Linked DNA regions of Homo sapiens: region 1 is linked to region 2. Evidence: fine-mapped expression QTL. A gene starts in region 2. The other region holds a variant in brackets. All regions are shown on one strand. Distances are between the middles of the regions.

What was found. PIP is the estimated chance that this variant, and not a neighbour inherited with it, causes the effect. A credible set is the group of variants that fine-mapping cannot tell apart.
Region 1: its variant is the best candidate, but not a certain one, in a credible set for the expression of TENT5A in pancreas (GTEx, PIP 0.55).

Annotation. Positions count from the first base shown.
Region 1 is chr6:81,955,788-81,961,160 of GRCh38, reverse strand. All of the region lies in intron 3 of LINC02542 (long intergenic non-protein coding RNA 2542), which reads left to right. Among named protein-coding and RNA genes, the nearest start is that of LINC02542, 140 kb to the left of the region's middle. The variant A/G (reference allele first, on the strand shown) is at 2,339.
Region 2 is chr6:81,749,786-81,755,158 of GRCh38, reverse strand. TENT5A (terminal nucleotidyltransferase 5A) reads left to right here and starts at 2,478. Exons shown (of 3, transcript NM_017633.3): 1 at 2,478-2,728; 2 at 2,981-3,569; 3 at 4,688-5,373. The coding sequence starts at 3,018. RefSeq lists enhancers at 1,407-1,456, 2,317-2,817 and a silencer at 2,277-2,406.

The DNA of each region.
Region 1 (5,373 bases), 210 kb before region 2:
CCCAAAGTGCTGGAATTACAGGCATGAGCCACTGCACTGGCCTATTTATCTTTTGTTGACTGTGCTTTTGGTGTCATATATAAGAAATCTTTAATAGATCTCATATTATGAAGATGTTCCCATGTTTTCTTATAGAAGTTTTATAGTTTTAGCTTTTACGTTTAGGTCTTTAATTCATTTTGAATTAATTTTTATATATGGTGTAAGTTAGAGGTCCAACTTCATTCTTTGGCTTGTGGATGTCCAGTTTTCCTAGCACTGTATATTGAAAGCTCCCTTAATATTTTGCACATATATGTATAAGTTTTCCTATTTAAAATGATCTGTTTGTAAACTGGCTGTCATGCAGGGAGGGAAGCACTGATTTGCAGAATTGGTAATTTCCCTCGTATGAATAGTCTACCATGGCCAAATTTAAGCTAAGATGATATCACTGAACAGGGAGTTAGAAAGAAATATTAGTTAAGGGGTAGAGGCCTGGAATTATTTTACTTTGTCTTTCTTGCACCTGGCATATACTAAATACTCAAGTCTCACTTCATAGATTCTTATTTGACAAATATTTCAGAGTGCTTTCTATGTGGCAGGTAATTGTGCTAGATGCTGGGTACACAACGATGAAAATAAAAGCAAAAACAACAAACATACATGGTCCCTACCTTCATGGATATTATAATCTAGAGATATGAGAAATAATTTAGAAGTAAACCAGAAAATAACTAATAATTACTCATTATCAGCTGGGTGTGTTGGCTCACACCTGCAGTCCTAGCACTTTGGGAGGCCAAGGCAAGTGGATTACCTGAGGTCAGGAGTTCGAGACCAGCTTGGCCAACATGGTGAAACCCCATCTCTACTAAAAAGTACAATTAGCCGGTCATGGTGGTGGGTGCCTGTAACCCAGCTACTCAGGAGGCTGAGGCAGGAGAATCCCTTGAACCCGCGAGACGAATGTTGCAGTGAGCCGAGATCGTGCCACTGCACTCCAGCCTGGAAGACTCTGTCTCAAATAATAATAATCATAATAACCCATTATCAGTAAGATAAAGTGCACAGTGACAGAATTGCTTAAGCATTCCTGTCTAAAGAAGAGTTGGGGGGAGAAAAGCAAGCATGATGCTCTATACCTGGAAGGAGAGACGGAAATGATTATGTAAAGTGCTGAGGAAGAGCCTTTTAGGAAGGGGGCCAAGAAGGGCAAAGGCCTTGAGCCAAATGACCATAACCACTGAGTGAAGCTCAAAGGAGGCCCATGTGGCTGGGTTAGAAAGAGGAAGGAGAGTGCCCTATGCTAAGATGAGAGAGTTGGCGGGGGCCATATCATACATGGCCTTGGAGGCCACTCTCAGGTATTGGGATTTTATTCAAAGTAAAATGAAAACCCATTTATGGCTTCTAAAAAGACAGCGGGCATAATTGGATTTTTTAATACGAATTCTTTCTGTCTGTGTGAATAGAGTGGGTTTTTGAAAGCCATTGATGAAGTGGAATTGCAGTAAAGAAGCTTTTGAAGTGCTGCAGATGACATAGAAAGAAGTGGGCAGATTTGAGACTTTATTTTGAAGGGAAAGTAGAGACTTGATGACAGATAACATGTCAAGGGTGAGGCAGTCAAGGTGTCCTTCAGTCAAGAACTTGGGGAAAGAAAGTTAGACAAAACATAGTTCATTCTTTTTAAGAAGCTGTGTGCCAGCTAGCCCTGAGCTAGGGACTTTGAGTGATATAAAAGAGGTAGATAATGTATTATTCATACACAGAAAGTATAAACCTTGCTCCTAGTGAACCTTTTAAAATAAATTTTCTATATAGTTTTACCCAAATCTGCAAACTATAATAAATCGGTGTATATAAAGGTGTAAACTACTGCTGTATTTGAGGTCGAGAATATTAGTGTGAAAAGAATTCTGACAGCAAAAATCCTAGTGGGTTGATTAGGAATGAAAGTTTCATTGGGGTTAAAGTGTCTGAAGAAATTACAAGACTTGGGGCAGTGGTTCCAAGATGGCCGAATAGGAACAACTCCAGTCTCCAGCTCCCAGCTTGAGCGACGCAAAAGACGGGTGATTTCTGCATTTCCAACTGAGGTACCAGGTTCATCTTACTGGGGCTTGTCGGACAGTGGGGGCAGGACAGTGCAGCCCACCGAACGTGAGCCGAAGCAGGGCAAGGCATTACCTCACCCAGGAAGTGCAAGGGGCCAGGGAATTCCCTTTCCTAGCCAAGGGAAGCGGTGATCGACAGCACCTGGAAAATCGGGTCACTCCCACCCTAATACTGTGCTTTTCCAACCGTCTTAGCAAATGGCACACCAGGAGATTATATCCCGTGCCTGGCTCGG[A/G]GGGTCCCACGCCCACAGAGCCTCGCTCTTTGCTAGCACAGCAGTCTGAGATCAAACTGCAAGGTGGCAGCAAGGCTGGGGGAGGGGCACCCACCATTGCTGAGGCTTGAGTAGGTAAACAAAGCAGCTGGGAAGCTCATGCTGGGTGGAGCCCACCTCAGCTCAAGAAGGCCTGCCTGCCTCTGTAGACTCCACCTCTGGGGGCAGGGCATAGCAGAACAAAAGGCAGCAGAAACCTCTGCAGACTTAAATGTCCCTGTCTGACAGCTTTGAAGAGAGTAGTAGTTCTCCCAGCATGGAGTTTGAGATCTGAGAATGGACAGACTGCCTCCTCAAGTGGGTCCCTGACCCCCGAGTAGCCTAACTGGGAGGCACCCCCTAGTAGGGGCAGACTGACACCTCACACAGCTGGGTACCCCTCTGAGATGAAGATTCCAGAGGAACGATCAGGCAGCAACATTTGCTTTTCAGCAATATTCGCTGTACTGCAGCCTATGCTGCTGATATCGAGGCAAACAAGTCTGGAGTGGACCTCCAGCAAACTCCAACAGACCTGCAGCTGAGGGTCCTGACTGTTAGAAGGAAAACTAACAAACAGAAAGGACATCCACACCAAAACCCCATCTGTATGTCACCATCATCAAAGACCAAAGGTAGATAAAACCGCAAAGATGGGGAAAAAACAGAGCAGAAAAGCTGAAAATTCTAAAAATCAGAGCGCCTCTCCTCCTCCAAAGGAATGTAGCTCCTCACCAGCAACAGGACAAAGCTGGATGGAGAATGACTTTGATGAGTTGAGAGAAGAAGGCTTTAGACGATCAAACTTCTCCGAACTAAAGGAGGAAGTTCGAGCCCATCGCAAAGAAGCTAAAAACCTTGAAAAAAGATTAGACTAATGGCTAACTAGAATAAACACTGTAGATAAGTACTTAAATGACCTGATGAAGCTGAAAACCATGGCACGAGAACTACCTGACAAGTGCACAAGCTTCATTAGCCGATTCGATCAACTGGAAGAAAGGGTATCAGTGATTGAAGATCAAATGAATGAAATGAAGCGAGAAGAGAAGTTTAGAGAAAAAAGAGTAAAAAGAAATGAACAAAGCCTCCAAGAAATATGGGACTGTGTGAAAAGACCAAATCTACATCTGATTGGTGTACCTGAAAGTGACAGGGAGAATCGAGCAAAGTTGGAAAACACTGCAGGATATTATGCAGGAGAACTTTCCCAACCTAGCAAGGCAGGCCAACATTCAAATTCAGGAAATACAGAGAACACCACAAAGATACTCCTCGAGAAGAGCAACTCCAAGCCACATAATTGTCAGATTCACCAAAGTTGAAATGAAGGAAAAAATGTTAAGGGCAGACAGAGAGAAAGGTTGGGTTAACTACAAAGGGAAGCCCATCAGACTAACAGAGGATCTCTCAGCAGAAACTCTACAAGCCAGAAGACACTGGGGGCCAATATTCAACATTCTTAAAGAAAAGAATTTTCAACCCAGAATTTCATATCCAGCCAAACTAAGCTTCGTAAGTGAAGGAGAAATAAAATCCTTTACAGACAAGCAAATGCTGAGAGATTTTGTCACCACCTGGCCACCCTACAAGAGCTACTGAAGGAAGCACTAAACATGGAAGGAAAAACCGGTACCAGCCACTGCAAAATCATGCCAAATTGTAAAGACCATCAGTGCAAGGAAGAAACTACATTAACTAATGAGCAAAATAACCAGCTAACATCATAATGACAGGATCAAATTCACACATAACAATATTAATCTTAAATGTAAATGGGCTAAATGCTCCAATTAAAAGACACAGACTGGCAAATTGGATAAAGAGTCAAGACCCATCAGTGTGCTATATTCAGGAGACCCATCTCACATGCAGAGACACACATAGCCTCAAAATAAAGGGATGAAGGAAGTTCTACCAAGCAAATGGAAAACAAAAAAAGGCAAGGGTTGCAATCCTAGTCTCTGATAAAACAGACTTTAAACCAACAAAGATCAAAAGAGACAAAGAAGGCCATTACATAATGGTAAAGGGATCAATTCAACAAGAAGAGCTAACTATCTTTAATATATATGCACCCAATACAGGAGCACCCAGATTCACAAAGCAAGTCCTTAGAGACCTAAAAAGAGACGTAGACTCCCACACAATAATAATGGGAGACTTTAACAACCCACTGTCAACATTAGACAGATCAACGAGACAGAAAGTTAACAAGGATACCCAGGAATTGAACTCAGCTCAGCACCAAGTGGACCTAATAGACATCTACAGAACTCTGCACCCCAAATCAACAGAATGTACATTCTTCTCAGCACCACATCACACTTATTCCAAAATTGACCACATAGTTGGAAGTAAAGCACCCCTCAGCAAGTGTAAAAGAACAGAAATTATAACAAACTGTCTCTCAGACCACAATGCAATCAAACTAGAACTCAGGATTAAGAAACTCACTCAAAACCATTCACCTACATAGAAACTGAACAACCTGCTCCTGAATGACTACTGGGTACATAATGAAATGAAGGCAGAAGTAAAGACGTTCTTTGAAACCAATGAGAACAAAGACATAACATACCAGAATCTGTGGGACACAAAGCAGTGTGTAGAGGGAAATTTATAGCACTGAATGCCCACAAGAGAAAGCAGGAAAGATCTAAAATTGATACCCTAACATCACAATCAAAAGAACTAGAGAAGCAAGAGCAAACACATTCAAAAGCTAGCAGAAGGCAAGAAATAACTAAGATCAGAGCAGAACTGAAGGAGATAGAGACACAAAAAGCCCTTCAAAAAATTGATGGATCCAGGAGCTGGTTTTTTGAAAAGTTCAAGAAAATTGATAGTCTGCTAGCAAGACTAATAAAGAAGAAAAGAGAGAAGAATCAAATAGATGCAATAAAAAATGATAAAGGGGATATCACCACCGATCCCACAGGAATACAAACTACCATCAGAGAATACTATAAACACCTCTACACAAATAAACTAGAAAATCTAGAAGAAATGGATAA
Region 2 (5,373 bases):
TTTAACAGGTCTTTTTTCTTTTCTTTTTCTTTTCTCTTCTCTTTTCTTCTTTACTCTTCTCTTCCCCCCCTTTTCTTTTCTTTTTCCCTTCCCTTCCCCTCCCTTCCTCCATTTCCTTTTCTTCTTTTCCCCCTCCCCTTCCCTCCCCTCCCCATCGTTCCTTCTTCCTATTTGTGCTTGTCTTGTTTTCCAATAAGAAGGTACTGATAAGCTACAGACCACTCGTTACCCCGTAATGACCACTAAACAGCATTCACAGCCAAATGGGTTGGGTTAAAGGCCTGACCCCACAACTTATTAGTTGTGGAACTTGGGAATGTTTCTTAACTTCTTGGATTCCTCTGTTTCTAGATCCCTAGGAGATGGAAATACCTTCTTCTTGAAGATTAAATTAGGTATTATGTTAAGGAGCTAAACAGGTTATAGCCCAGACGTGTTCAATAAGTTCCTGGTACTCATAAACCTTATCTCAAGGCACTACCAATCTCATTTATTAATCACGGGAGTGTACATATCCTTCCTCAAACATTCTCCAACTCCATACGCTTCCCTTTGTAGATAACGCTCTTCTCCTCTTTCCCCGACTACTGAAAGAACATCCATTCTTTCAAGATCCAGTCCAAATGACACCTTCTCGGGTGTCTCTCCGTTTCCTATGTAGTTAGCCCGCCACGCGATTGCGTCAGAATATACTTCTCTCATAATACATATGCAACTGAACCATAATTATGCACCTAGGTGCTATGCCCTCTAGATTACGTGAAATGTCATTCTTAAATCTTCAGCACTTAGCCTGTTGCCTGGCACGTAACAGGTCACTAAATGCTCTCTCTATACACATGCTCACACAAGAATATGCATATGTATATATATGTATAAAATGCCTGGTTAAGATAGATTCATGCGCCGATGGCTGGTCAGAGGAACACATGGGTGTGCTCTGAAGGAAGCGATGGCCCTATGCGGACAGGGTAGTTGTCCTAGAGTCCCCAGGCGCACCTCAGTGCTTAGGCGCAGCGCTGAGGGGATGGCCTCTGCCACAGAGACAGTCGGATTTCTCCATTTTGGGACGCAGCTCGGCAGGGCACCGGGAGGGGGCGGCGTTGTCACGCAGCTGGATGCTCCACGGGTGACACCCCCGCACCCTACCCCTCACCCCCGAGCCGCGCAGCTTGAGTGACTAGGCCGGGGCTCCCCCAGTTAGGAGGTGCGGGCTGTTTTTCCTCCCAGTCTGGGCGGGCAGGGCTGAGCAGGGTTTGGGGAGTATTCTGTGACCCTGGCATTCTCCCCTCTGCCCCACCTCAGCCCCCGGCAGCGTCTAGGCGCTGGGAAAGCTGCTCCGGGTTAGTTGATGGAGGCAGCGAGCTGCCGAAGAGACGGCCACAGCTTTCTAGCAAAGAGTGGTGGTGGCGCGAGTGAGCGTGCGTAGAATTAGCTCTGCCGAAGTCACCGAAGCTGGAGGAGAGAATTCATTTTATTCTTGAAACTCCTACTTTTACGTCTCGTGGAAAACCAAATCGTATTCCACTGACACTATGATGCACTTAAAATGGCCAAACTTTAGGGGGCCGCGAGGAACGCGCTTCGCCGCCTCCAATTTTGTCAGAGAACTCGCAGCAAAGGCACCGGACACCTAGCGGCCCTTTCCCTGGACTCCGGGGCAGCACGCACTCCCCGGGCGCGCTCTCTGCGCCCACTCGGCCCGCCCAGTCCTCGGCCATTGGCTGCTCGCCCGCGTCTGCTCCGTGACGCGCCCTGACCCCCGCGAAGTACTGGCCCCTTGGAGCCACTCGTGCGCAGGAGCCGCGCACGCCCGAGGCCCGTGGTGCCGCCCCCGCGCCTTCTCGGGCTCGCCCAGAGCTCCCCGGCGCGCTTCCCGAGGTTTCGAGAATCGAAACCCAGTTATCAACAAGCCCTTCCCACTCACGCGCCGTGACTGATTTGCGTGCAAGAGTGGACTCATGAGTCCACACTTGGATCGGGTTTATCAATGGAGTAAATGGTCTACCTAAAAACCGAGGTTTAAAAGAGCGGTCGTGAGGAACCTCCGGAGCCCAACCGTGATGATCTAAAGACGGGCTGAGTCCGCGAGAATTTTGGGAAGTTTCTGCAGTTGCAGGATTTTAGTCGTGATCTGGTTTTGATGACCACTTATGATTCCTGGGGCATTTAAAGTGTCTCCTCCTGGGGAAAATGAAAAGAGATTTGTGGGAGGGGGCGTACATAAATTAAATGTATGTATAAATACACGCATCTACGGGCGCACACAGTATCCGCACATACAGCCCAGGACCTCACGCTCACCGGCAGTCGTCCCGCACTAACTGCTGGGCTAGTCAGCTGCGTGCCCTGCGGGCGGGGGAGGGCAGAGGGGGCGGCGCCCTATGCAGATGAGGAGGGTGTGGCGAACGTGCCGCTCTGGGCCCCGGAAGCGCAGAGAAGCCCGGTATAAAAAAAGTACTGAAGACATTTTCCCCGCACAACTGCTAAAGCTCCAGAGACACGAGCGTGTGTGGCAGCAAGAGCCGCCAGTTCGGGACCACCGCAGCTGGGGTGGCAGCGGCGCAGGAGGGGTCGCGGGGAGGGAGTGGTGAGCGCAGGCGGCAGGGGTCTGGGAAAGACGAAGTCGCTATTTGCTGTCTGAGCGCGCTCGCAGCTCCTGGAAGTGTTGCCGCCTCTCGGTTTCGCTCTCGCTCGCTGCGCTCCTAGAAGGGGCGGCCGCCTCCAGGTGACACAGACGGGACTCTCGCTTGCGCTTTCCAGATGCATCAGAGATACTTTTGGTGCGGGGCTGCTCTGCGGGGCGCGGTGCGCGGCTGGGGACTGTAAGGGCCGGGGGAGGGAGTCTCCGAGGAGGCCCGGGGTCAGGGAACTATCGGGGGAGGGGGCGCTCTTTTCCTGGCGGGCCTCTGCTCTCCGCCGCCGCGCGTGCTCTCCGCCGCCGCGCGTCCTCACCGCGCTCCTTTCCCTTTCTTTTTAGGACTGACCAGGGCCAAGTGGCGCTCGGCGGGCACTACATGGCGGAGGGTGAAGGGTACTTCGCCATGTCTGAGGACGAGCTGGCCTGCAGCCCCTACATCCCCCTAGGCGGCGACTTCGGCGGCGGCGACTTCGGCGGCGGCGACTTCGGCGGCGGCGACTTCGGCGGTGGCGGCAGCTTCGGTGGGCATTGCTTGGACTATTGCGAAAGCCCTACGGCGCACTGCAATGTGCTGAACTGGGAGCAAGTGCAGCGGCTGGACGGCATCCTGAGCGAGACCATTCCGATTCACGGGCGCGGCAACTTCCCCACGCTCGAGCTGCAGCCGAGCCTGATCGTGAAGGTGGTGCGGCGGCGCCTGGCCGAGAAGCGCATTGGCGTCCGCGACGTGCGCCTCAACGGCTCGGCAGCCAGCCATGTCCTGCACCAGGACAGCGGCCTGGGCTACAAGGACCTGGACCTCATCTTCTGCGCCGACCTGCGCGGGGAAGGGGAGTTTCAGACTGTGAAGGACGTCGTGCTGGACTGCCTGTTGGACTTCTTACCCGAGGGGGTGAACAAAGAGAAGATCACACCACTCACGCTCAAGGTAACACCACCCGAGATGCACTTGGGTCCTGACCCAGTCTGGGCCGGGTGTGACGGGGAGCGGGCAGAGGGGCATCGGTTAAATGCCATGAATCTGTGGCCATCACGAGTTTGGGCGCGCGTTATTTCTTTGATTTTTGATTTTTTAAACCAGTAAACTGACGTGCGTGGACGGTGTTGAGTGTTTCAGTTTACTTGATGCTTTGGCGCTACAACTCTTCTCCCAGGTCCTCCTCTGCCCTCTCTTCTCTTCTTTCTCCTTATGTTTTAACTCTTGGCTTTCCCTGTTGGAGTCTTGTCCAGAGTAGATTCTGATACTTGGCAGAATGAAATGATGTAAATAATTTTTGAGTCATTATATTTGAGTCTAGCCTTTGGGAAAATAACAGCCTGAAGCAGAAGTGAGTCAATGAGTTTTTTATTGTACTGGAAAAGGTGAATAGATTTCACAGCGGCATTCAGCTGACTACGTGTTAAAGGTCTATCTGGTGGTTCTTCGTGCTGGTTCATATGTTAAGGGTATAGTGGCACCCCCTCCCCACCCTCCACTTTAGTTCAAGACGGGTTTTATATGATTAGTTAAAATTGTCTGAGGAGGCAGGCTCCTGGAATGTCATAATTTAGTTTATATTTGATTGTAACTGCAGGGTGCCCCTGGAGGGACACACAAGATACTGATAACATTGATTGCCGCAGGCGGAGAGGAATTGGGTGGCTTGGAACAAGGGCGAGAGGCTGACTAACCTACCGCTGAATGCCCTTCCGAGTCTTTTGAATGTTGTTTGGATACTGTGTGAATATTGTGCCTATTAGACCGTTTTCAAAAAGTAACACTTAAAAAGTCAGACATGACAACAAAACCTCTTACTACTGTGCTACGTCTGCCAAAAGCCTCAAACTATTACCTCTAGTCCCTTTCCCAGACAGTAAAACTACTCGTTAAAAGTATTTTTTTTCTATTTTCAGAAGACCGTTTAAGCCTGTAGGTAGTGTTTGGCTGAAACTTGACAAAACAAAAGGGAAAGAGCAAAATAATTCTCAGCTGTGAAGAGGATGTATTTATTTATTGATTTATTATTTTCTAGGTTTGCTCATTTTGTTTTATCTTTTAAATTGTAGGAAGCTTATGTGCAGAAAATGGTTAAAGTGTGCAATGACTCTGACCGATGGAGTCTTATATCCCTGTCAAACAACAGTGGCAAAAATGTGGAACTGAAATTTGTGGATTCCCTCCGGAGGCAGTTTGAATTCAGTGTAGATTCTTTTCAAATCAAATTAGACTCTCTTCTGCTCTTTTATGAATGTTCAGAGAACCCAATGACTGAGACATTTCACCCCACAATAATCGGGGAGAGCGTCTATGGCGATTTCCAGGAAGCCTTTGATCACCTTTGTAACAAGATCATTGCCACCAGGAACCCAGAGGAAATCCGAGGGGGAGGCCTGCTTAAGTACTGCAACCTCTTGGTGAGGGGCTTTAGGCCCGCCTCTGATGAAATCAAGACCCTTCAAAGGTATATGTGTTCCAGGTTTTTCATCGACTTCTCAGACATTGGAGAGCAGCAGAGAAAACTGGAGTCCTATTTGCAGAACCACTTTGTGGGATTGGAAGACCGCAAGTATGAGTATCTCATGACCCTTCATGGAGTGGTAAATGAGAGCACAGTGTGCCTGATGGGACATGAAAGAAGACAGACTTTAAACCTTATCACCATGCTGGCTATCCGGGTGTTAGCTGACCAAAATGTCATTCCTAATGTGGCTAATGTCACTTGCTATTACCAGCCAGCCCCCTATGTAGCAGA